7 linked regions of the Homo sapiens genome follow. The protein of the gene in region 3 interacts with the protein of the main gene of each other region in a pairwise test. Each region holds a gene or a part of one and is shown on either strand. Other genes may lie near its edges.

Evidence for each region.
Region 1: the proteins of FAM221B (region 3) and GSC2 interact in binary tests that used the Homo sapiens proteins (3 or more experiments, as listed by UniProt).
Region 2: the proteins of FAM221B (region 3) and KRTAP10-8 interact in binary tests that used the Homo sapiens proteins (3 or more experiments, as listed by UniProt).
Region 4: the proteins of FAM221B (region 3) and LMNA interact in binary tests that used the Homo sapiens proteins (3 or more experiments, as listed by UniProt).
Region 5: the proteins of FAM221B (region 3) and KRT35 interact in binary tests that used the Homo sapiens proteins (3 or more experiments, as listed by UniProt).
Region 6: the proteins of FAM221B (region 3) and SPRED1 interact in binary tests that used the Homo sapiens proteins (3 or more experiments, as listed by UniProt).
Region 7: the proteins of FAM221B (region 3) and LZTS2 interact in binary tests that used the Homo sapiens proteins (3 or more experiments, as listed by UniProt).

Annotation. Positions count from the first base shown.
Region 1 is NC_000022.11:19,147,493-19,151,469, forward strand, and holds the start of GSC2 (homeobox protein goosecoid-2), read right to left. Parts: upstream 2,801-3,977; 5' UTR 2,792-2,800; coding exon 2,533-2,791; intron 2,425-2,532; coding exon 2,171-2,424; intron 1,604-2,170; coding exon 1,499-1,603; 3' UTR 1-1,498. UniProt on the Homo sapiens protein: May have a role in development. May regulate its own transcription. May bind the bicoid consensus sequence TAATCC.
Region 2 is NC_000021.9:44,610,736-44,613,454, forward strand, and holds KRTAP10-8 (keratin-associated protein 10-8), read left to right. Parts: upstream 1-1,343; 5' UTR 1,344-1,365; coding exon 1,366-2,145; 3' UTR 2,146-2,219; downstream 2,220-2,719. UniProt on the Homo sapiens protein: In the hair cortex, hair keratin intermediate filaments are embedded in an interfilamentous matrix, consisting of hair keratin-associated proteins (KRTAP), which are essential for the formation of a rigid and resistant hair shaft through their extensive disulfide bond cross-linking with abundant cysteine residues of hair keratins.
Region 3 is NC_000009.12:35,822,233-35,825,732, forward strand, and holds part of FAM221B (protein FAM221B), read right to left. Parts: coding exon 3,332-3,500; coding exon of another isoform or gene 3,302-3,331; intron 3,142-3,301; coding exon 2,998-3,141; intron 1-2,997.
Region 4 is NC_000001.11:156,131,711-156,135,210, reverse strand, and holds part of LMNA (lamin), read right to left. Parts: intron 809-3,500; coding exon 683-808; intron 407-682; coding exon 236-406; intron 25-235; coding exon 1-24.
Region 5 is NC_000017.11:41,478,352-41,482,648, forward strand, and holds the start of KRT35 (keratin, type I cuticular Ha5), read right to left. Parts: upstream 2,801-4,297; 5' UTR 2,747-2,800; coding exon 2,276-2,746; intron 1,431-2,275; coding exon 1,348-1,430; intron 1,153-1,347; coding exon 996-1,152; intron 645-995; coding exon 483-644; intron 136-482; coding exon 10-135; intron 1-9.
Region 6 is NC_000015.10:38,318,836-38,322,335, reverse strand, and holds part of SPRED1 (sprouty-related, EVH1 domain-containing protein 1), read right to left. Parts: intron 96-3,500; coding exon 1-95. UniProt on the Homo sapiens protein: Tyrosine kinase substrate that inhibits growth-factor-mediated activation of MAP kinase. Negatively regulates hematopoiesis of bone marrow.
Region 7 is NC_000010.11:101,005,571-101,008,333, reverse strand, and holds the end of LZTS2 (leucine zipper putative tumor suppressor 2), read right to left. Parts: coding exon 2,619-2,763; intron 1,850-2,618; coding exon 1,166-1,849; 3' UTR 501-1,165; downstream 1-500. UniProt on the Homo sapiens protein: Negative regulator of katanin-mediated microtubule severing and release from the centrosome. Required for central spindle formation and the completion of cytokinesis.

The sequences.
Region 1 (3,977 bases), on a different chromosome or scaffold from region 3:
GATGGCCATTCAACCAAGGAACTCAAGGGGCCTGGAGCCTGTGAGATGCGAGTGTCCCCAGCTGCAAGGGAGCTGACTGGGACACGGGCATGTCCACAGGTAGTCTGTTCAGTCCCCAAGGGCAAGACCAGGGTTCAGGGAGAAGGGCTTTGTGTGCATGCTAGGGGTGGAGGCGGGGATGCTAGGGACACCCAGCAGTGTCAGGGCAGTTCTGACTGGGGACACCATGCTTGCTTGGTGTTATCCAAGCTGGCCAGCCTTGGGGTGTCTGGGGAGCTGCAGCCCTGGCTTCTGCAGTCCTGCTTTTAGAGATGGACTTCATCTCTTGCAGGTAGAATGGCCCCATTCCCTGCAGGGCCTGTAAGGAGACAGAACGAGGTGCTCAAGCCAGCTGGGGGTGGGGATGTGAGATGCTTTGGACCCACTGTAGGGCCTACTTGGGGAATCTAAGGCTTCTTTCCACTGTGCCTTTTGCCATGGGCCAGGATAAAGAAGGGGAGGGCAGGCATCTTCCCAGGCAGCAGGGGCGGGGTCTCCCCAGTCCAACCTCCTCTTGCCCTACCCTAGGATGGCACAGATTGCTGTGAGGGAGTCCGAGCCCACAGCATGAAAACCCCAGGAGGAAGCAGGGGACCCTCACCCATGGGCAGGTTCACAGTAGCCTAGAGGCCAGGGCTGGACCCCAGGGGTCCAAGGCCACCATCCGTGGAGCAGTCCCCTCTGCTGGGGAGCACCCTGGTGCAGAGACTGAGGATCGCTGAGCTGTGCTCCTCTCAAAGACAGCTGTACCCTAAATACCCCCTCGCTGGGAAGGAAGAAGAAGGGACAGCTCCTTGTTGGGTGTGGGAGTGGAGCCAAGGTGGACTTGAGACTCTGGGCGGCTTCTGTGGTATTTGAAGTTGCTAGTTTCTCAGTATCAGCGCGAGGCTCGAAGGTGAAGGGACTGTGGAGGGGCTCCTGGAATCGCTCCTGCGACCTTCTTATTCTACAGGTCCAGATACCAAGACCCAGCCCAGGGCCTGGGAAGCCTGCAACGCCAGGACTGCACAGACACGAACCCCATCCCCTCTCCCGCTGGGGGAGGACGAGCCAGGTCAAGTTAGGTCAATGTCCACATTGAGAAGAGGGTGGCCAGCATGTCCCAGGGTGCGGAGAGACGCTCCACTGCGTAGGATTCTGGGTCCCGTGTTGATACGGGGTGGTTCCCCTCCTGCGGTGGAGTTAGTGTCTCTCGGGGGGTAGGGAGCTGAGGAAACTGCTCTATGCCCCAGCCCACCCCCAAGGGACTCGCCACTCCCACTGCCGTGGAACACCAAGCACCGGGGGCCCGTCCCCAGCGCCACGGCAGCACGAGCTGCAGGAGGCAAGGGCTGTGGAGACGGGTGGAGGCGGCCGGTGTACTCTCCCAGCTCCTTTTCGGGTAGACCTGTCTTCTCTCAGCGCCAACTCCAAAGATCCCAAAAAGGGTGGCCGAGCCCAGGGGCAGCTCCTAGAGTCATCAGCAGCTCCCCTTCGGGGACTTCTTGACGCCGGGCAGGAGCCTCGCGGAAGCCGACGCGCGCTTCTGGTGTCGCCATTTGGCCCGGCGGTTCTTGAACCAGACCTGGGGATGGGGGGAATGCTCAGCCCTAGCCCCAGGTCCTGCGTCCCACCGGCTCCCGAGGGTCCCACAGGGACCGAGAGGGGAGCTTCGCAACAGGGATGTGGGCGGACGGCGCTGTAGAGCCGACACCCGGGCCGCGGCTGCGCGCCACCTGCCCTTATTCGCTGCGGACAGACTCGGTGGGTCTGGACGCGAGATGGGAACCCCCTTAGTACCCGCCCCAGCCTCCAGCTGGCGGCGACCAGGACGCCCCTTCTTGGGTTGCGGGCTCTTCTGAATTTCCCAAATTCTGGACGTGAACGCGGGCCTCTTTCGTCACCAGAGGAAAGTGTAAAACAAAAGAAAAGAAAAGTAGCCCTCCGGTTCCTTTCCCGCGGCACCTCCCTGCTCTCACCCGCTCCTCATACCCCCGGACGCCCAGCGCCGTCCAGGGACCTCCTCCCTCCGGCGCGCCAGGGCGGGGCTTGGGCCGAGGCCGTCTTTGCAAAGGGCGCCCGCCCGCCAGGACCCCAGTCCAGTGTAGCCGCGGCCCGCGCGCTCCGGGGAAAGGCTGGGCGGGGCACTCACCTCCACGCGCTCCTCGCGAAGGCGGATGCGGCCGGCCAGGCGCTCGCGCGTACTCACGTCAGGATACTGGTTCTGCACGAAAAGCGCCTCGAGCGCCTGCAGCTGCTCTTCGCTGAAGATGGTGCGGTGGCGCCTCGTGCGCCGCTGCGAACCCGGGCCGACCGCGCCCGGGAGCGCCCCGGAACCTCCGGCTGGCGCACCCAGAGACAAGGGCACCGCCGGTCCCAGCCTCAGCGGCCACGCCAGACGAGCGCCTGCGGAGCGAGGGCGCGGTGAGGCGCGGGGCTGGGGCCAAGCTCGGCACCCACTGCGCCGCGCCCCGGGCTCCGCCGGGCCCCGCGCCCCGCTCCGCGCCCACTCACCCAGCCCGGCGGCCGCCTCTGGGGGCCCGCAGGGCGCCGCGCGGGGGCCGCAGCAGCAGCAGCAGGCGCAGGGCGCAGCCTCGGGCGCCCCGGGCTCCTCTGGCTTCGCGGGGCTCTGGCGACCGGCGGGCTGCGGTGGGCAGGCGGCCCGGGCCGGGAGGCTCCGCTCGGGCAGGCTGGAGAGGATGTGCTCGATGGAGAAGGGGCAGGGCCGCCCGGCACCCCGGCGGCTCGCCGCGCCCCCAGCCGCTGCCGCCATGCCCGGCCCGGCCGGGGCGCCGCCGCCGCGGGAATATATACGTCGGGGAGGGAGCGCGCAGTAATCCCCGGGCCGGGCGTCCAGTCCACGCGGGTTAATCCCGCAGCGCCGGCCGCGAACGCGCTAATCCTCGACTGCGGCGGCCCTGCCTCCGCGCGCGGGGGCCGGGGGCGCTGCAGAGAGGGCCCCCTGTGCCCCCCACCCCGCCCCGCGTCCTCCTGCCCCACCCGCGCCCGCCGCTCAAGCTGGCAGGGCGACCTGCGGGGAAGGGGCGGAGGGCCGCCTCGCCGCCGCCCGCGGGGCCTGGCAGCCGCTCGGAGGGCGCCCCGACCCTGGCAGCTCCCCAGAGCGCGGCGGTGCCTCCCGGCCCAGCCTCTGGTGGCTCCCCCTCGTTCGGCTGGGCCTAATTCCTCGTCCCCTCTGGGGCCCTACTGCGGCGGCTCAGCACGCCTGCAGAAGCTCGGCCTAGCCGCCCACCCGAAACTCCTGGACCGCAGCCTCCATGGGGCCCAGCACCACCGGCAACCGCACGATCCCGCCGCGCTCGGGTCCCGAACCTGCCCGCCACCTCGGAGCCAGGGTCTCATGGCCCTGGAGGGCGTGAGAGCGCGGCAGGAAGCCTGGGCTGCCGGGTGCCCCCAGTTCTCCGTCTCCTCACCTGTGTCAAGGAGACCTCCCCGCCCCTTCCGAGGCCCCTCCTCGGTGCTTCAGAGCCGCCTGTCCTCCAGCTTTCCCACTGGTCCCAGAATCCCCGCGAAAACATCCAACACTGCACCTCGCCCTTCCCCGCACTGTCACTGCCCCCCAGAAGCTGTGGGCTCCCCCTCCTCGCTCTCCGCCCAGGCCAGTCCTCTGGCCACACCGTCCTCGGTCCCTTCTGCCACAGCGCAGGTGACCCGCACTTGGCTACATTGTTTCACCCTCAGTGAAGCGGCTCCTGGCAGCGGGACCGTCACTTCAGCTTAAGACCCTTTCCTCTTGACCTTTGAAAATACAGTATGGGACTCATAGCACAGAGAAACAGACGGCCTGGCTCATACTCCGTTGTCAATTTCTGGCCGTGTGACCTCCATAGGCGTCTTCAGCCTCTGGGCTTGGCTTTCCCAATCTGTAAAGTGTAGTGACTAGGTGTGAGACGGTTAGAACCTGGCCGCCTCCCCAGGGCAATGCGTATTCCTGCGCTCCT
Region 2 (2,719 bases), on a different chromosome or scaffold from region 3:
CACTCAACACCAGCCCATGAAAGCAGCCAGGAGGGAGGCTGTACCCTGCAAAGCCACAGGGGTGGAGCTGTCCGAGACCATGGGAACCCACCTCTTGCATCATTATGACCTGGATGTGAGACCTGGAGTCAAACGAGATCATTTTGGAGCTTTAAAATTTGACTCCCCTGCTGGATTTTGGACTTGCATGGGCCCTGTAAAATCCCTTTGTTTTGGCCAATTTCTGCCATTTGGAATGGCTGTATTTACCCAATACCTGTACCCCTATTTTATCTAGGAAGAAACTAGCTTGTTTTTGATTTTACAGGCTCATAGGTGGAAGAGACTTGTCTTGTCTCAGATGAAACTTTGGACTGTGGACTTTTGGGTTAATGCTGAAATGAGTTAAGACTTTGGGGGACTGTTGGGAAGGCATGACTGGTTTTGAAATGTGAAGACATAAGATTTGGAAGGGCCAGGGACAGAATGATATGGTTTGGCTGTGTCCTTACCCAAATCTCGACTTGAATTTCATCTCCCAGCATTCCTACATGTTGTGGGAGGAACCCAGGGGGAGATAATTGAATCATGGGGGCCGGTCTTTTCCTGTGCTATTCTAGTGGTAGTGAATAAGTCTCACAAGATCTGATGGGTTTATCAGGGGCTTCTGCTTTTGCTTCTTCCTCATTTTCTCTTGCTGTCACCATGTAAGAAGTGCCTGTCAGCTCCCACCAAGATTCTGCGGCCTCCCCAGCCATGTGGAACTGTAAGTCCAATTAAAGCCCTTTTTCCTCTCAGTCTTGGGTATGTCTCTATCAGCAGTGTGAAAATGGACTAATACAGGGGCATCGCACCATAGTTTGCAGATGGAACAGGTAGGGGTGGCAGGGTGGGGAGCCAGGGGGCATTCCTAGCCGAGACACCCATTGTTCAATGGAGCAGAACTCTGGGACAGGTGGAGAACATCTGCTGGTAAAAAAACACCCCACCCCTGGTACCAAATACCCCAATAGCAAAGACATACAGGCAAAGACAGGAGGAAAGTGGGGCTGGGTTTTCCAGACTTGCCAACTCACGATCTGTTCAACTCCCAGCTCCACCAGCAGACACGCAGCATCACTGTGTGTGGTTGCAGGGCACAGACACCTGCAAGTGGTCAGCATCACCCAACCACATGCAGCAGTCCTGGGACCACAGTAACATCCCACAGCAAGTAAACTAATTAGGGTTGCCTGGAGGCAAAGTCTCAGCCACAACAAGGAAAGGGAAGGCTTGTGAGACTCCTGTGAGGAAAATACCCAGGGAGGGTATAAAACCTCAGCAGCCAGGGCACACAAACCCACACACCTCACACCAGCACTCACACCACCCAGTCCAGCACCCACCATGGCTGACGCCTGCTGCACCAGGACGTATGTGATTGCTGCATCCACCATGTCTGTCTGCTCCAGTGACGTGGGCCATGTCAGCCGAGTCTCCTCCCCCAGCACCTGCACTGGCTCCTCCTGGCAGGTGGACAATTGCCAGGAAAGCTGCTGCGAGCCCCGCTCCTGTGCCTCCAGCTGCTGTACCCCTAGCTGCTGTGCCCCAGCCCCCTGCCTGGCCCTGGTCTGTGCCCCAGTGAGCTGTGAGCCCAGCCCCTGCCAATCAGGCTGCACCGACTCCTGCACACCTTCATGCTGCCAGCAGTCTAGCTGCCAGCCGGCTTGCTGCACCTCCTCCCCCTGCCAACAGGCCTGCTGTGTGCCTGTGTGCTGCAAGTCCAACTGCTGCAAGCCCGTGTGCTGCGTGTCCATCTGCTCTGGAGCTTCCTCCCCATGCTGCCAGCAGTCTAGCTGCCAGTCAGCTTGCTGCACCTTCTCCCCATGCCAACAGGCCTGCTGTGTGCCCATCTGCTGCAAGCCCATCTGCTGTGTGCCTGTCTGCTCTGGGGCTTCCTCTCTGTGCTGCCAGAAGTCTAGCTGCCAGCCGGCTTGCTGCACCACCTCCTGCTGCAGACCCTCCTCCTCCGTGTCCCTCCTCTGCCGCCCTGTGTGCCGGCCTGCCTGCTGTGTGCCTGTCCCCTCCTGTTGTGTCCCTGCCTCCTCCTGCCAGCCCAGCTGCTGCCACCCGGCCTCCTGCCTGTCCTTCCTCTGCCGCCCCGCGTGCTCCCGCCTGGCCTGCTGAGGCCTCTGCTCAGGCCAGGAGTCCAGCTGCTGATGGGCACGTCCCCCAGGGCCAGCCGGCTCCGGTCCTGTCCTGGGTTAAGTGGCTGCCCCTACCTGGGATGGGGTCTCCATGTCTCCCCTGTGCTGAGGTGACCTCTCCCTCCTTACTCCCAGGAGCCTCCATCCTCACTGCTCCCCAGCTCTTGCCTTCCAGCAGGTGCCCACCTGCCTGCTGGGTCCCCTGTCCTCCCTCCCAGCTTCTCTGCTCTGGGTCACTTGGCCTCGACTTGAACCTCTCAGCACCTCCTCCTACTCCCCAATAAACTCTCCTTGGTCACCTGATTCTCTTTTCCTGTTGTTCTCCTGGGAGGACACACGGTTTTGAGCTGACATTGGTCTCCTCCAGCCATGACCGTTTCTAGGAGTGAGTTACTTAACCTAGAAGTCACAAGGGACAGTGGCCTAACTCCTCCAGGGGGTCACCAGGTGGGACTCACGGTCACTCCCAGGAAGGCTCAGTCCCGGCTCAGCCCCTGTGACCGGGTCTTCCTGAGCCTGGTCATTCGCTGTAGTGCCCTGGGCTGTGGGGCTCT
Region 3 (3,500 bases):
ACCAAGCATCTACCCTTTTCTAGGCATTCAGTTAATGGCACCATTATCCTACCACTTACTTATGCCAAAAACTGGTGGCACTCCAGGCATTTCCCTCTCTCTTATCCTATACATCCACTGTTCCAATGGTCAGTTTCACTTTGTTAGCTTTTCTTTTCTTTTCCCTACTTTTCTTGTTTCTTTTCTTTCTTTTTTGACAGAGTCTCGCTCTGTTGCCTAGGCTGGAGTGCAGTGGTGCAACCTCGGCTCACTGCAACCTCCACCTCCTGGGTTCAAGCAATTCTCCTGCCTCAGCCTCCCAAGTAGCTGGGATTACAGGTGTCCGCCACCACACCCGGCTAATTTTTTGTATTTTTAATAGAGACGGGGTTTCACCATGTTGTCCAGGCTGGTCTCGAGCTCCTAGCCTCAGGTGATCCACCCCTTGGCCTCCCAAAGTGCTGGGATTACAGGTGGTAGCCGCTGCGCTCGGCCTGTTAGCATTTCTTGAACCTGTCCACTTCTCTCCACCTAAGCCCATCTACTTCTTTCCTGGTTATGACCAGTGCCTCACAATGTATTCACTTGCCTTTCCATACCTCCTCTCTTAGCCTCACAACTCCAGTCTTGTCTTTCTCCAGTCTACCCTATTGCCAGAGTGATCTTGCAGAAACAGAAATTCGTTCATGTTATTGTCCTACTTAAAACCTTCTAGTGACTCTCAGTTGCCCTCAGGATATAATTCTAGCTTTTAACTTGGCACAGAAATTCCTGCACAATTCTGCCCTTCTAGAGCAGAGTGGGCTCTTCTCCCCACCACTCTATGCATCAGGCATAGTGCATTGCTATAGATTCCTGCTGTGCCTTGCCCTGTCATGTCTCATCTTACAGCACTCTTTACTTGGCCACCTCTTCTTACTCATCTTACAGATATCAGCTGAGAAGTCATTCCTTCCAAGGCTTACTATTCCTCAAGCACTCCAGATAAGATGCCCCTTTTTTTTCTGCTCATGCAGCAGTCTAGGATAACCTTGATTATAGCAATTATTAGAGTGAATTATAATTGTCCTTGTACTTATTGGTATCTCTCATTAGAGTGCCAAGTATTTTGTCTTTGAACCCCCATCAGCATTACCACTTCCATAGCTAGCTCAATGCCTGGCACATAGTTGGTGCTCAATAAATGTTTGTCGAATGAATAAAAACAAAGGTTACACTTGATATTTCTGTACACATCACATATACTGTTATGGACTACCCAGGACTCAACATCCCCACTATTAGGAGGGGACCTCAAATATAATTGTTCGGGGTTGAATGACATGAATTTCTTTATAAAACTTCCTGTTTAAACAGGAAGATGAAGAAGTTCAATTTGAAGAAGAAAAAGAAATACAGTGGGCTTGAGGAGTAGGGAGTAGACAGGAGGTTCTGAGTAGGGGAATAAGAGGACTGAACACATCCTGCATTTTTTTTTTTGAGACATTCTGTCACCCAGGCTGGAATACACTGGCACAATCACGGCTCACTGCAGCCTTGACCTCCTGGGCTCAAGTAATCTGCCCACCTCAGCCTACTAAGTAGCTGGGGCCACAGGTGTGCACCACTATGTCTGGATTATTTTATTTTATTTTTGTAGAGATAGGGTCTCACTGTCTTGTCCTCACTGTCTAACTCCTGGGCAATTAAGTGATCCTCCTGCCTCAGCCTCCCAAAGTTTTGGGATTACAGATGTGAGCCACCTTGCCAGCCAGAATTTGCAAGAAAATAAGAGTAACCGAATATGTTAACATAAGCAAACAAAGTTGGTGGTGGGGCGGGAGGGCAAGGGTGGGGAGGTGGAGGGTCCCTGCATGGGAAAGGGGAAAGTAAATTTCATGGAGGAGGGATAAGCATTTAGAATTACCTGCTTGTCTTTATGTTTTAGGCCTGTCATCGTAGCTCTATTCCCATCATAAAGGGAAAGGAAGTATGAAGGACCAAAATAAATGTCATAACATCTATTGAATTCAGTCTAGAAAGACCAGAATCCTTATAGCAGGTCAGGGTGGCCCTCTTACTGAAGGTAATCCCTATAGACATGAATTTCCATAACACAGGTAGGCATGCTCATGCATAGGATGGCATGTTTTTGCAAGTTCATCTGTACGCAGCATGCCACTAACAGGACTGTCAAGAGTACTAATCACAGGCTGAGGCTTGGAAACAGCAGGGCCAGAGGACACAGGTCTCCCCTTTGGTAACAGAACTCAAAGCTTTTGGGTACCCAGCATGGGCCTGGCATGCAGGGGTGACAGCCTTTTAATGGAGTTCCACCAAAGGGACTAAGGTCTTTGTCATGTCAGAACAGCAAGTCTCCTGGGGACTGTCCAGGGTCCTGGGCCATCTCTGCTTTAGGGTCTGTAGGCTCTCTGGGCCCTATATCTGGGGTGGGCCATGACCCTTCTGTTTTTTTTTGTTTTTTGTTTTTTGGTTTTTTTTTTTTTTTGAGACGGAGTCTCGCTCTGTTGCCCAGGCTGGAGTGCAGTGGCGCAATCTCGGCTCACTGCAAGCTCCACCTCCCGGGTTCACGCCATTCTCCTGCCTCAGCCTCCCGAGTAGCTGGGACTACAGGCACCTGCCACCACGCCCGGCTAATTTTTTGTATTTTCAGTAGAGACGGGGTTTCATCGTGTTACCCAGGACAGTCTCGATCTCCTGACCTCGTGATCCGCCCATCTCGGCCTCCCAAAGTGCTGGGATTACAGGCGTGAGCCACCGCGCCCAGCCGACCCTTCTGTGTTTAATAATTTTAGTTCAGCTACCTGTCTCTACCTGGGCTTTATATGAATCTCCCCACTTTTTGTCTGCATCCACCCTTGTATTCCTTGGCCCACTTGCCTGCTCCTTTTCCAGGCAGGTGGTATAGCCATTTCCAAAAGGGGAAGCTATCTGCTGAATGTTCAGGTTCCCAGATCTTTTGGATTAGAGGATGCCCATGGGCCTGTCACAGGCCTCTGAAAGGCCACATGGGCTCACCTGTCTGGATGGCATTCAGGGCTGCATCCTTCTCCCACTGGAAAAGATTGTTCACTTGAGCACCAAACTCCTCTCTATGCATTGCCTTAGCCACTTCCACCAGCTCTGTCTGCCTAGCAGGGAACACTGGGCGGGCTGTGTTACCTAGGATGGGAGAGGATGAGTAACCAGGGGGAAGTGAGAAGGCCCTAAAACTAAGAGAAGGGGCCATGTCCAAGAGTAACCCAGTCTCCTCCTCCTGGGGCAAGTCAAGGACAGTGAATAGTAGTGAGAACAGGACAGGGGAGAGGACAGGTACAATTACAGCTAACTCCTTTCTTCTTCTTCTTCTTGCCTAGTTGGTGTCCAGGTTGGGCTGTGTGAGCAGTGCTGTCACTGGCATCTACTCCCTTTTCAACCTCTCCTGCTTCTTCCTCCTGCTTTTCGGTTGTGTCCACTTGGACCTGGGATGAAGGGCCTGAAAGACAGTGTTCTGGAAGGCTCTCAGATTCAGAGAGATGGGT
Region 4 (3,500 bases), on a different chromosome or scaffold from region 3:
AGCAGACTGCCTGGCATTGTCCAGCTGGAGGGGAGGACAAAGGGTTAGGACTGTGGTGACTGGGAGGGGTGGAGGCACAGGCCTGAGTTGGGCATCACTGCTACAGCCCCAGGTCCTGGGCCACCCTGAGCTCCCTGCCACCATCTGCCTGATCCCCAGAAGGCATAGCCCAGCGTGGGTAAGGGTAGGGCTGCCAAGGGCAGAGGCAGTGAGGGAACCAATCGAGAGCAAGCACCTTGGCAGAATAAGTCTTCTCCAGCTCCTTCTTATACTGCTCCACCTGGTCCTCATGCTGGGCCCGCAGTTCCTGCAGCGCATCCGCCAGCCGGCTCTCAAACTCACGCTGCTTCCCATTGTCAATCTCCACCAGTCGGGTCTCATGACGGCGCTTGGTCTCACGCAGCTCCTGGAAGGGTTGGAGGAAGGACACAGAAACCAAAATCAGAATTAGTTCCTGGGAGGCCAAGACCCAGGGGCGGGGCTCCCTGCCCAGCCCTACTCCATGAGCCACTACCAGCCCCACTTTAACCTGGGAGCTGAGTGCTGGCCACCCCCAACTCCCTGTCCACTAGGGCAAGGGACTCAGGAAGGCGAGCTCTGCACACAGCTGGTCCCCCCTAGCCCAGCCCAAGTCTGTCATCACCCAGCCCCAGCCCTCTGGCTTGCAAAGCACAGTCCCCACCTCACTGTAGATGTTCTTCTGGAAGTCCAGTTCCTCCTTCATGGTCTGCAGCCTGTTCTCAGCATCCACCCGCCGCAGCATCTCATCCTGAAGTTGCTTCTTGGCCTCACCTAGGGCTGCCTCAAGCTGTGAGGAAGCAGGCAGAGATGAGGAAAAGGGGTCACAGAACACAAGAACTGGAAGGAAGCTGAGAGGTGGGCTGCTGCCTGTGCACCCCTTCACACATGTGGAAACAGGTCCAGGGAAGGAGGGCCTTGGATGCCTGCAGGGGTCAGGACATCTACTCACTCACTCTTGGTAGGTACTGTGCTAAGAGAGAAAATATATATCTAATACAAAAAAGTAGCCAGGCATGATGGTGGCACACGCCTGTAGTCCCAGCTACTCAGGAGGCTGAGGCACAAGAATCGCTTGAATCCAGGAGGTGGAGGTTGCAGTGAGCCGAGATCGCACTACTGCACTCCAGCCTGGGTGACACAGCTAGACTCTGTCTCAAAAAGAAAAGATATATGCCCCCCAGCCACAGGACTCCCTTCTCTGGCACAACATAGCAACTGCTATAAAGGAGGTATGTGCAAAGTACTGAGGGGACATGAGAGAAGGAACCAAAGTATGCCTGGGGTACTTTTGGGGGGCTCTGGGAAGGCCTCCAAGAGGCTAAGACCCAAGGGACAGGCTAGCGGGGCCTACAGAGAGCTACTGTCATGATTTCAAGGGCAGAAACAAGCATGTACAGGCACAGAGGTATGAAGGCATGTGTGTTCTGGGGTCTTTGGAAAGATCAGTACTGCTGAAGCCTGAAGTACGGGGTGGGAAGGGATGGGAGAGGTGGCTGGGTCAGTAGGCAGGGGCTGGCTCATGAAGAGATGCCCTTATCTGCCATGAAAAGAACCTGAGGATGTTTGAGCAGGGGAGCACCACGCTTAGATTTTCTTTTTTTTATTTTTATTTTTTTTTTGAGATGGAGTCTCGCTCTGTCACCTAGGCTGGAGAGCAGTGGCGCGATCTCAGCTCACTGCAAGCTCTGCCTCCCAGGTTCATGCCATTCTCCTGCCTCAGTCTCCCGAGTAGCTGGGACTACAGACATGGGCCACCACACCCAGCTAATTTTTGTATCTTTAGTAGAGACAGGGTTTCACCATGTTGGCCAGGATAGTCTCGATCTCCTGACCTCGTGATCTGCCCACCTTGGCCTCCCAAAATGCTGGGATTACAGGCGTGAGCCACCACACCCAGCCGTATGCTTAGATTTTCATTTAAGAAAGCACAGGCTGGGCTAAGTGTGGTGGCTCATGCCTATAATCCCAGCACATTGGGAGGCTGAGGCAGGAAGATCTCTTGCAGCCAGGAGTTCAAGACCAGCCTCAACAACATAGAGAGAACACGTCTTGCCAGGCGTGGTGGCTCACGCCTGTAATCCCAGCACTTTGGGAGGCTGAGGCGGGCAGAACACCTAAGGTCAGGAGTTCAAGACCAGCCTGACCAACATGGTGAAACCCTGTCTCTACTAAAAATCCAAAAAGTAGCTGGGCATGGTGGTGGGCACCTGTAATCCCAGCTACTCGGGAGGCTGAGGCAGGAGAATTGCTTGAACCTGGGAGACAGAGGTTGCAGTGAGCTGAGATCGTGCCATTGCACTCCAGCCTGGGTGACAGAGTAAGACTCCATCTCAAAAAAAAAAAAAAAAAAAAGAGAGAGAGAGAGAGGAGAACATGGCTCTATTTATAAAGAAAAACAGGGCAAGGAAGCACAGGCTGATCAGTGCATCCAGGAAGGGCTGGGGGAAGGGTACAACTGGGAGGCTGGAGACCAGACCCAGGAGGAAGGTGGCCCAGCCTTGGTTCGGTGGTCAACCTGCTGGCTTCTCCAGGTCTTTCCCTGGTATACTATGATGGTAGGGCCTGGGAAGGGAAAGAACCCAGGATGGAAGCTTGGCCACTGACTCTAATCCTGGCCCCACTATGAACAGATGAGACTGTGAAATTAGGAATAAACTGCTTCTTTGATTCTTAGCTTTTATTTATTATTTATTTTTATTTTTATTTATTTATGTTTTTTTGAGATGGAGTCTCGCTCTGTTGCCTAGGCTGGAGTGCTGTGACCCGATCTTGGCTCACTGCAACCTCCACCTCCCGGGTTCAAGCGATTCTCCTGCCTCAGCCTCCCAAGTAGCTGGGATTACAGGTGGCTGCCACCATGCCTAGCTAATTTTTGTATTTGTAGTAGAGATGGGGTTTCACCATGTTGGCCAGGCTAGTCTCGAACTCCTAACCTCAGGTGATCTGCCCACCTCTGCCTCCCAAAGTGCTAGGATTACAGGCATGAGCCACCGTGCCTGGCTATTTTTTATTTTTTTTGAGATAGAGTTTTGCTCTTGTTGCCCAGGCTGGAGTGCAATGGTGCAATCTCAGTTCACCACAACCTCTGATCCTGGGTTCAAATGATTTTCCTGCCTCAGCCTCACAAGTAGTTGTTGGGACTACAGGTGTGTGCCACCACGCCTGGCTAATTTTGTATTTTTAGTAGAGACGGAGTTTAACCATGTTGGTCAGACTGGTCTCAAACTCCTGACCTCAAATGATCCACCCGCCTTGGCCTCCCAAAGTGCTGGGATTATAGGCGTGAGCCACTGCACCCAGCCCAATTCCTAGCTTTTAACATGATAAATTGGAGAAGAGTGTTTTGAAAGTAAAGGCCACTCTATATACACAAAGCATTATTAACACATGTCCCATATGTAATTAGCCATCCGCTTCTGATGGCCTCAATAAATGATCAACTCCAGTCCTCCTTTTCCCCAGAGAAATCACAAGGGCCT
Region 5 (4,297 bases), on a different chromosome or scaffold from region 3:
GGGGCTCACCATGCTGTGCTGAGCCTGCAGCTCAATCTCCAGGGCGTTGACCGTGCGTCTCAGCTCGATGATCTCTGCCTGGCAGGACTGCAACTGCTCTGAGCTGGACACCACCTGCTGGTTCAGCTCCTCACTCTGAAACATACACACACAGAACCTGGTCAGCCACACCAGGGACTTGGCTTCAGAGAGCTACAGAGGCCGGTTAGAATCATGAGCCAAGAAAGACATTCCCGATTCCCCAGTCCCACTCATTTATTTTATACTGGAGGGCATTGTTGCTCAGAGGACAGCAACCTGCCCAAGTGGGTCTGTTTTGACCTTGTCAGCAAGGTCAATTGAAGTGGGTCTGTTTTGACCTTGTCAGCAAGGTCAAAACAGAGATGGGACTCAAAGTTAGATTTCTTGATTCAGAGCCCCAGGGTCACTTCCATGTGAGCCACCACATACCCCTGTTGCACTGACTGTTTCCAGGTACCTACCTGGGTGTCCAACCAGTCTTCAGCATCCCGGCGGTTATTCTCCACCAGGGTTTCATACTGGCACCTCATCTCCTCCAGAACTCGGTTCAGGTCAACAGGTGGGGCAGCGTCCACCTCAACATTGAGGCGGTCACCAAGTTGGCAGCGCAGTGAGTTCACTTCCTATAGCACAGACCAGGATGAGTACTAATTCCCAGAGGGCTGCCTCCAAGGTTCACCTCCTCCTCATGTTCACCTCCTCCCCATGCTCACCCCTCCTAATGCTCACCTCCTCCCCATGCTCATCTGCTCCCCATGCCCACCTCCTCCCCATGCTCACCTCCTCTGCATGCTCACCTGCTCTCTATGCTCACCTGCTCCCCATGCTCACCTCCTCTTCCCTATGCACACCTGCTCCCTCATGTTCACCTCCCCCTATGCTCACCTCATCCCCAATGCTCACCTCCTCCCCATGTTCACCTCCTCCCCCATGCTCACCTGCTGTGCCGTGTTCACCTTTTCCCCCATGCTCACCTCCTCATGGTTCTTCTTCAGGCAGAGCAGCTCCTCCTTCAGGGACTCCACCTGGGCCTCCAGGTCAGACTTGCACAGGGTCAGGTCATCCAGGATCCTGCGCAGGCCGTTGATGTCTGACTCCACCAGCTGCCGCAGGGACACCTCCGTCTCATACCTGCAGGCATAGAACAGGGCACCTGAGTCTGCATTTCCTTTTTGCATCTAAGTCAGGCCTGCCCTCAGACTGTCCAGGTGCTGTGAGTCCTGCTTTTATGCCCCAATGACAGAGTACAGCCAAAACCCTGAGCTCAGGCATCACCTGTGTCCAGTTCTAGCAGCCCCCAACCACATGACAAGCAGGACAACTCACTTGGTCCTGAAGTCATCTGCAGCCAATTTGGCATTGTCAATCTCCACCACCAGCCTGGCATTCTCAGCCTTGCTGCATAGAGTCTGGAGATATGAAGAAGTTATTTCATTGCAAGAAAGGACATTCCACTTGTTGGAGCTCCCTAAAGCTGACAAGGGCTGACTCTGGAAGGAGGAAGTCACCCATCCTAGACCTCTGCTACTCCATGTGCATTGGAGTGTTATGGGCAGGCTCTAGGGATCAACTATGGAAAGTCCAGGGTTTCTTCCAGTGCAGTGTATCTGTGACCTGTTACTCAGGTTAGATAGCTGCATGAAAATGCAACAGGAAAGGCCTGGCATGATGAAATGAGGCTTCTTCCAATCTCCCTGTCTCCCAGGCCTACTGGGGGCCCAGGGCATTTCATTGCCAACAACATACCCCGGGATTCTCTGGTCATAAATGGTCCCTCACAGGAGCCAGCTATAACTTTGGGCCAGGCGAGAAGTGGATATGGGCCCTTGGCAAGAAAGAAACTTCTCTGACAGGCATTTTCTTCCCTGAGTTACTTATGGGAAGCCTGAACTGCACTGCACTAAATACATCAAACCCAATCCCCTGACTTTAAATAAAAGAGGAAATGAAAACTCAGAAGACTCAGAGGATTGGGCAATACCACCAAAGGTCACAGAGTTCATTCATAGACCTGATGTTCAAGCTCTGGCTCCAGTAACTGCCATCTGGGTCGCTTACCCAGCCTGAATCTCAGTGTTCTCAACTGTATAATGGGCTAATGATACCTCCCTCTTAAGGTTATTGGGAGGAGCAAATGAGGCCACAGAGATGAACATGCTTGGTGACTTCCAACATGCCCTATGGGAACAGAACTACCAATGAATGCTGGTGACACAAAGTTCCTGGGAATCCAAAGCCACTCTGAACCTCTTACCTTCTTCTGGAGCTCCTCGATGGTCCGGAAGTAGGACTGGTAGTCAGGGCACATGTAGGGGACCTGCTGCTCACACCACTCACGGATGCGGCTCTCCAGGCTGGCGTTCTCCTGCTCCAGCTGACGCACCTTCTCCAGGTAGCCGGCCAGGCGGTCGTTCAGGGATTGCATGGTCTCCTTCTCATTGCCAGTGAGGATGCCCTCCCCAAACCAGCCCCCACCCCCACTGTAGCTGGTAGCGAAGCCTCCAGCAGGGAGGCAGAGAGCAGGGAGGCAGCTGGTGGCCCTGTAGCTGCTTCTGCCCAGACCCACTGAGCAGGCAGAGAAACTTCTGGCCACAGGGGAGAGACTTGGAAGCTTGCAAGAGCTGCTGGAGTACATTGCGGACACACGAGTGGAGCCCCCACTGGCCCCTCCTGGGCTCTTGAGAGACCCAGAAGAGAAGCCGGCCTTGAGGCATTTGGAAGCCATGGCCCCTGCAACTCAGATGCAATTGATAGGTCTCTGAGGCCAGACACCCCAAAGCAGAGAAGCAGCTCCTTACCCCAGATTTATATCTCTGCCCCAGTGGGCATTGGTTGGCCTTTACAAAGTGTTTTCTCCTCATTAAAGTTAACACCACTTTCTATTAAAACCCCTCATTAACCTGTTATTTAGTTTCCTGTGAAAATTTACCAGTCTCATAAAATAGGAGCCCCATTACTATGTCAAGACTCATCTCCACCACCCCACATCACTGGGAAGACCAAGTCCCTGTCAGTTCTTCAAAGGGACCTGTCATTTGAGCCCAGACCTCAGCCTCCGCATTAAGCAAGCATGGGAGTTCAGCCACTGTCTTGACTTTCTCCAACTTTGACTTCTTTTATTGGCCTGAGGGAGTAGAGGAGGTCTCTGGGGTGCTCCCAGAAGATGGAAGGGTAAACTTGGTTGGTGCAGGAAGGCAGGGGTCTTGCAGCCAGGGAGACACAGAAGGCTCTTGAATTGGCCCAGAAAATATGGCTAAGGTGACCAATTTTCTTGGTTTCCCCAGGAATTTTCTGGCTTTAGTTCCGAAAGTTCCATATGCCAGGGAAACCTCAGTCCTCGGTAAAATGGGACAGCTTATCACCCTAGATACTGCAGAGCCCTGATGGACACTTCCCTACTCTTTCCCTTGCCAGGAAGTCTGTGCAGGTTGTAGAGCCTAAGTTCTAGCCACAATGCCTAGAGATCAGTTAATTGGACACCTGCCCATGATGACATCTAGGAGGGCATGTCTTCCCCAGCCCTGGTTGAGAAATGGAGAAGCCCTTCCTTCTGGCTGCCTGAATTGGAGCTCTTTTCACACAGCCCTATCAATAACCCGGCTGATGGTAGCAACCATCATTCACTGAGCATTTAGTACCCACCAGCCCCCACGCTGATCTGTCTCTATGCATTCTCTTATTCAGTCCTCACACAAACTCATGAGATTGGCATCACCAATAGCCCATTAAATAGAGGAGGCTTGGACTGTTTCAGGAGCCTGTCCCAGATCACAGCTGAAAAAGCATCTGTACAACTGTTCAAGGCATGCTATCTTCTTTAAGGCCTCACACACACCCTCCAACACAGTCGTGGATAGAAAGGTGCTGACTCCTACAGAAGGAGACAATGGTCAGAGTAGAAAATGGCTTACCCAAGGTCCACACAGGCTTCCCAGGGAGGCTAAAGCCCAGGCCTTGCAGCTCCAAACCACAGGCCCACCCCACTGCCTCTAAGGGCCCAGTCCTGGCCAGGCCTTCCCCCGAAGTCTGGCCCCTGCTCCAGCCCTGCTGTGCCCTCCCAGCTCTGAATGCCCAAGGCAGTGACTATTGGTAGATTTCTTGGCCTCCAATTAACTGACGTCTTCTGATTGTCTTGTGTTTCAGCCCTATTTTCCCAGGGAGACTGTAAGCATGGGGGCAAGGATTGACCTTGTACTTTTTTTTTAAATCTCTGTAGTGTTAAGCACAGTGCAGGGCTTCTAGATGTCTATGAATTAATTAATTAATTAAGTGATTT
Region 6 (3,500 bases), on a different chromosome or scaffold from region 3:
AGACCAAACTTCTTGTCATCAATCTTCCAGTGGTGAAATGTTGGAGTGACCTTATTATAAATGAGGTCTTTTTTAAGCATACATTCCAAAACCACCTGACAAAAGCCAAATACCAAAAATTAATATACATATATCAAATGCATCTAATGTAGCTCATAAATACAAACTGAGGTGATACAACGCTATTACTTTTTAATGAATAATTTTTAGTATTTTAAATAAAGTGGTCTACTTCACAAAGTCACTCAATAAAGAGATTAAGATGGAATAAAAAAATGCACATTATAAACAGGATGCTTATTATACTCCCATTTTAAGAATACACACATATATACACTCCCATTGCATACAAAATTTCTGGAGGAATATATCAGGAATTACTTCCAGGAAACAGGCAGGGGGTTGGTAATAATAGAAATTTAACTTTTTAAAGTCATTTTTGGCTGGGGGCAGTGGCTCACACCTGTAATCCCAGCACTTTGGGAGGCCGAGGCGGGCGGATCACTTGAAATCAGGAGTTTGAGACCAGCGTGGCCAACATGGTGAAACCCCATCTCTACTAAAAATATAAAAAATTAGCTGGGTGTGGAGGTACATGCCTGTAATCCCAGCTACTCAGGAGGCTGAGGCAGGAGAATCGTCTGAGCCCAGGAGGTGGAGGTTGCAGTGAGTTGAGATCACGTCACTGCACTCCAACCTGGGCAACACAGTGAGACTTTGTCTCAAAAACAAAACAAAACAAAATAAAGTCATTTTCCTAAACTTCTTAAAAGACGTATTTATATTTTGTGTAAGGATTTAATGGTCACAGCAGTAAAACAAATACACTTGGCCACTTTTTCAAAATATGCATTTAAGTGAGTTACCTAACTTTTGAAGCCTTAGTTTACTCATCTGTAAAACAGAAATTGCAGTACTAAAATATCCCAGAGCTTAGAGTGGAATGACCGAATGTGCATTCATGTTAAGAGCTTCATGCAATGCATGAAGCAATATACCCTTGGTTTTTAAATTTTTTATTTTGAAAGTATTTCAAATTTGTAGAAAAGTAACAAGAATAACACAGAAAATTCCTGTTTTCCCTTTATCCAGATTTATCACATTAATTTTTAACATTCTCTCCACATATATCCATGTATAAACATTTAATTTACTTTATTATGAACTATTTCAAAGGAGTTACATATATTATGTTCTACTGCTCTTTAATACACACTTGAGTATATTTCCTAAGTGCAATACTATTCTCTTATGTAATCACAGTATGGTGATCTCATTCAGGAAATTTAAAACCAACACAGAACTTTAATCTATAGACCATGTTCCATAGACCACGTTCCACTTTTGCCTACTATACTAATAACACCTTTTAGAGCATTTTAAAAATCCTTCCAGTATAGGATCCATTCCAGGACAGTTATAAGGTCTCTTCAGTCTTTCGTTCCTGGGCCTGTCTTTCATCATATTCACAGTATGCTTTTAATATATGTTAGTTGTCAAATAAAACAAAAGTGGATATATTAGTGATCTTTGCAATTAATCTAATAAAAAGACTAGAACTACACACCTTAATTATTTTAAGAATCCCCTATAAGAAAACAGGAGGAAAAGAATTAAAAATAATTCAAATGAAACCCATAGTAGCACATGACACATAATAAATGCTCAGCTGGTATTTGGTGAAAGGTTGTATTTTCATTACCTCCACTCTTTTCCAATCACCATTATCACTTGCACATCTCTTCCATGCACTGCTGATGATCCCCTCAGATATTACTAGTAGTAGTGAATTACTAATAGTAATTGCACTACTCTGCAGGTAGAGTAATAATTTTTCTTAAAAAAAAATAGCAACTTTACTGGACCACTCCCTAGTTTCAATGTCTTTTCAATGCTTTCAAGACTAAAATTCTTACTATGACCTACTAGGCCCTGCATGAGCTGGTCTTTGTCTGTTTGCCAAATCCTTAAACTACAGTGGCAGACAAACATTAGGTACTCAACCAATACTTCTCCTCAGAAATCTTTTAGGCTTTATGCACTTCCCAAGGAACTCATTCACAGATCATGGACTAGGAATCTCTAATTTATACTTTTGGAGGGGAGGTCTGCTAGAGTCTGCTTATACTGGCTCCCAAGAGCCAGATATTAAATTTTCAAGAATTTTGGAAGCCATTGTTAAAAGCTAGAATATATAACTCTACAATGAAATAAATTGCATTAAAAATAAAATAATAAATACACAAAACTCATCAGTTCCTAATTATTTTACTATATTTTTACAATTACCTAGGTTCTTGAGGTAGTTTATGTCTGTCATATCTGTACGGTGGAAATACTATATAATGCCACACTGCTGCTCATTTCTTCCCAATGCTATATGCAATGATGGCATGTTGAGTAAAAGCAGCCATGGTAGAGGTATGTAAATGCTATAAATCATTGACTTGTGTCCCCTCTTGAAAGCTGATTGTTAAACCTTTTATCAGCATACCACTGAATATAATAATTCTTGGTAGTAAGTTTTATTAATTCAGAAATAACCAAAAATGTGACTAAGGTTCAGTCCTGCCCGTTTATAGGCAATGCAGTGAAATTCTCTCAAGACTTTTGCTTCCTATACTTTGATGACTCTATGTGTATTAGAAAAGAATTAACCGCCAGGCACAGTGGCTCACGCCTGTAATCCCAGCCCTGTGGGAGGCTGAGGCGGGTGGATCAACTGAGGTCAGGAGTTCAAGACCATCCTGACCAACATAGTGAAACCCGTCTCCACTAAAATACAAAAATTAGCCGGGCGTGGTGGTGGGAACCTGTAATCTCAGCTACTCGAGAGGCTGAGCCAGGAGAATCACTTCAACCTGGGAGGCAGAGGTTGCAGTGAGCCGAGATCATGCCATTGCACTCCAGCCTAGGCAGCAAGAGTAAAACTCTGTCTCAAAAAAAGAAAATAATTTACATGTATCCAGAGCTTTTTTGAGTCGGCACTTTGCTAAAGCATTTTACACAGATTTACTATTAAATATTTGTTACAACCATTTTGCAACAACAACAACAATTCACGATTAAGTTCTAGAATTCAAGGGGAAGTAAATGGTAGTGTCATAAATTACTGCAACATTTATACTATATTCATAAACAGTGGGAAAAGCAGTATTTTGTAAAACAATGCTAAATTGGAATTGTTAAAAAGGGGAAGACATAAAAACAGTTTGATTCTAGTTTTTTAATATATAATAATAACACCAAATTAATTTTTAATACATGAAAATATTACTGAATTAGCCCCCTCTTCTATTTTACAAAATTAATATTTTCAACTATTAACTCTCAAATAAAATTTCAATGTGATCTACCCTAATCTTGTCTTCAAATGGCATCTATTGTTTAGAGCCTCCCAACACTCACAGAAAAAGTAGTTTTAAAAATAAGTTCAAGCACTATTCACAATAGCAAAGACATGGAATCAACCTAGGTGTCCATCAATGGTGGATTAAATA
Region 7 (2,763 bases), on a different chromosome or scaffold from region 3:
ATCTTTCCACTTTCTTCCCTCCTCAGCTGTCATTAAGGCTCTGCCTTAGTGTCCAAGGACAAGGTGCTAGTGGGCAGCCTGTGTCACCTGCACTCACTGCTCCCCAACCTCCCAAGCCAGGATAGGGGGTGAGAAAGCCAAGGTCTGGAGCTTGGGATTGGTGGGCACTTTCTCACATGCTGTCCCTTATGAGTCGCCCAAGCCTCCAGGGACACAGACTCTCAGACAGGGCCCTGAAGGGGTCAATGCATCCATTCCTCAACCCCAAGCAGCATTCTGTGCAAGGAAACGGATGAAAGGCTTTTCTAGTCCCTGAAATCCTGAGAGATCATTTCACGTTGGGGTCCACTAAGACCTCAGACATTCTACTGGATTTGTCCTTCCTCCATCACCTTTTCTCCCCAAGAGAGCTCTATGAGGGGGAGGAGAATAGCCAGCAAATGGTGGGGGGGGGGGGGTCAAACAAGTTCCTGTACTCTTTATCCAGCACATTCACATTATTTTTAAACAAAAAAATTTTTTTTAATTTTTTCTTTGGGTTTGTACAAGAAATTTACAGTGTGAAAAATATACAAGTGAAAACGAGGCCATAAACCTGGGTGAAGGGAGAGGCTGCTTGGTCACAAACACAAATAAACAAGACATTTCTGAGTTCTTCCTTTGGTCTGACTTCAGCCCCCTCACTCCAGGAGAGAGGCTGCAGAGCTCAAACCTGGGAACCGAGCCCAGGCCCGGCCCTGTCCCCCAATGTGGGCAGGCACATCCGGAGCAGCTGGTGCCATCTGGCTTTCTCTGGCTTTGGGGTCGGGGGGAATGTGAAGAGGAGGGAGCCCCTTCTTCTTCCCTGCTCCCCTGGCTGGAGTGGGCTGGAAGCGCCTGTGAACAGGGTTGGCAGTGGCACTGGCAGCGGTGGGGAATGAAGTGGGTAGTAACAAGAGCCTCTGGGTAACAGTGAACACGGGGACCTTTGAGCGGTCTGATCTTGCTCCTCCAAGTCATAGGGCCACCCTGAGTTCTTGGCAGAAGCCCAGAGGCCTGGATCCTAGGAGACAAGTGGCTTTGGGGCCCTCAGCCTTTGGGGCCATCCGTGGACCCTGGGGCCTAAGTGGATCTGCAGCTGCTGCCCCTCTGGCAGAGCTCCCTACAGAGCTGGTTGCTGAGGGCCCTAGATCTCAGTAGCAGTGATCTCCTCCAGGCAGATGCAGGGGGCCTGCTCGGCCAGGCCCAGGTCAGCGAGCTCCCGGGCCTCCAGCTCCAGGCTGAGCTGCTGCAGCTCCTGCTCTAGCTGCCGGTTGCGCCGGTACATCTGGATGTAGTTGTGCTGCAGCTGCTTCTGGTAGCGGATCACCTGCTCCTTCTCTGCCTGCCAGGCCAGCCGCTCCCCCTCAAAGCTGTCCCGCTGCTCCTCACCCCGCCGCCGCTCCCGCTGCAGCTCCACCCGCAATCGCTCCACCTGGGCCCGCAAGCTGCCCCCAACCCCGGCTGCTGCCCGCTGCACTTTGGCCTCATCACTCTCTGCCAGGAGGAATGGGTCAGCGGTGGCAGGTGGCACAGGGGGCTCCCGGAGTCCGGCCGCCTCAGCATCCAACTGCCCAGCTTTCTCCCGCAGCTGCTCAGCTTCCTGGCGGTGTCGCTGCAGCTCCTGGGAACAGGCTTCCAGCTCCAGCTCCCGAGCTCGGGCGGCCTCCTGTAGACCCCGCGCACGGCCCTCACTGACCCGCAGCGTAGCACGGGCCTCCCGCAGCGCCACCCGCAGAGCCACCAGCTCGCTGCCCTTCTGCACCAGCTCTGCCTGAGACTCTTTCAGCTGCTGCTTCAGCAGGGAGATCTCGCCTGATTTCTGGCACACCTGGGGGTGGGAGGAAGTGGGGAAGGATGGTGAGACAGGTTCTCCTGGGGGGACAGGCCCTGCACATCATGCTGGGCATTTGGGAGAGAAGAGTCCATCTTTATCCCCATTTTACAGATGGAGACACTAAAGCAAGTCTAGTGACATGTCCAAGGTCATACAGTTAAGATGGGGCTTAAGTGGAAAGCAGACCTAGAACTTTTTGCTTCAAAGCTGGTGTCTTCAAAGCATCACAAGACACTGCAAGTACCACCAAGCCCTGGGGACTGGGGACTGGGGACTGGGTCCTGGCAAGTGCTGCAGGAGTGGGGACAATGGAGGGCAGTGCCCAGGTGCCTGCTGGAGAGGTACTACAGTGACCTAGTTAAGAGCTCAGATATTGGAGCCAGACTGCCTGGGTTCAGATTTGGGGCTTCAGCCTTTATGGGCCTCAGTTTACTCATCTCTAAAATGGGGAGACTAATGGTAGCCCCCTCAGTGTTGTTATAAGGATGAAATGATCTGTTCCATGTAACATGCTTAGAATAGTGCCTCCACACCACAAGCACCACATTCTTACTACTGGCTGGAAGCGTGGCTACGTGCCACTAGACAAGGCCAACAAGGAGACCCCCCTCCCAGAAAGGGACAGAGGGGAACCTCATCTCACGGAGGTGAGAAAGGGGAGGACCTCTGGGGGTGGCAGGCTGAGGGAGGGTGGGGCTGGGCCCCTTTTTCCAGGGTTTCTCCCTGTGTGACCCTGCTCCCTGCCCCTCCTGGTCTGGCCCACCTCCCACTTGGTCTCCTCAAGCCTCGGCCCGAGCTCCCGCTGCTCCCGCTCCAAGGTGGCGCAGCGCCGCTCCAGCTGTTCGCGCTCCTGCAGCAGCTGTGCGAAGTCGTCCTGCAATTGCCGCTTCTCCTGCTGCAGCTGGAAC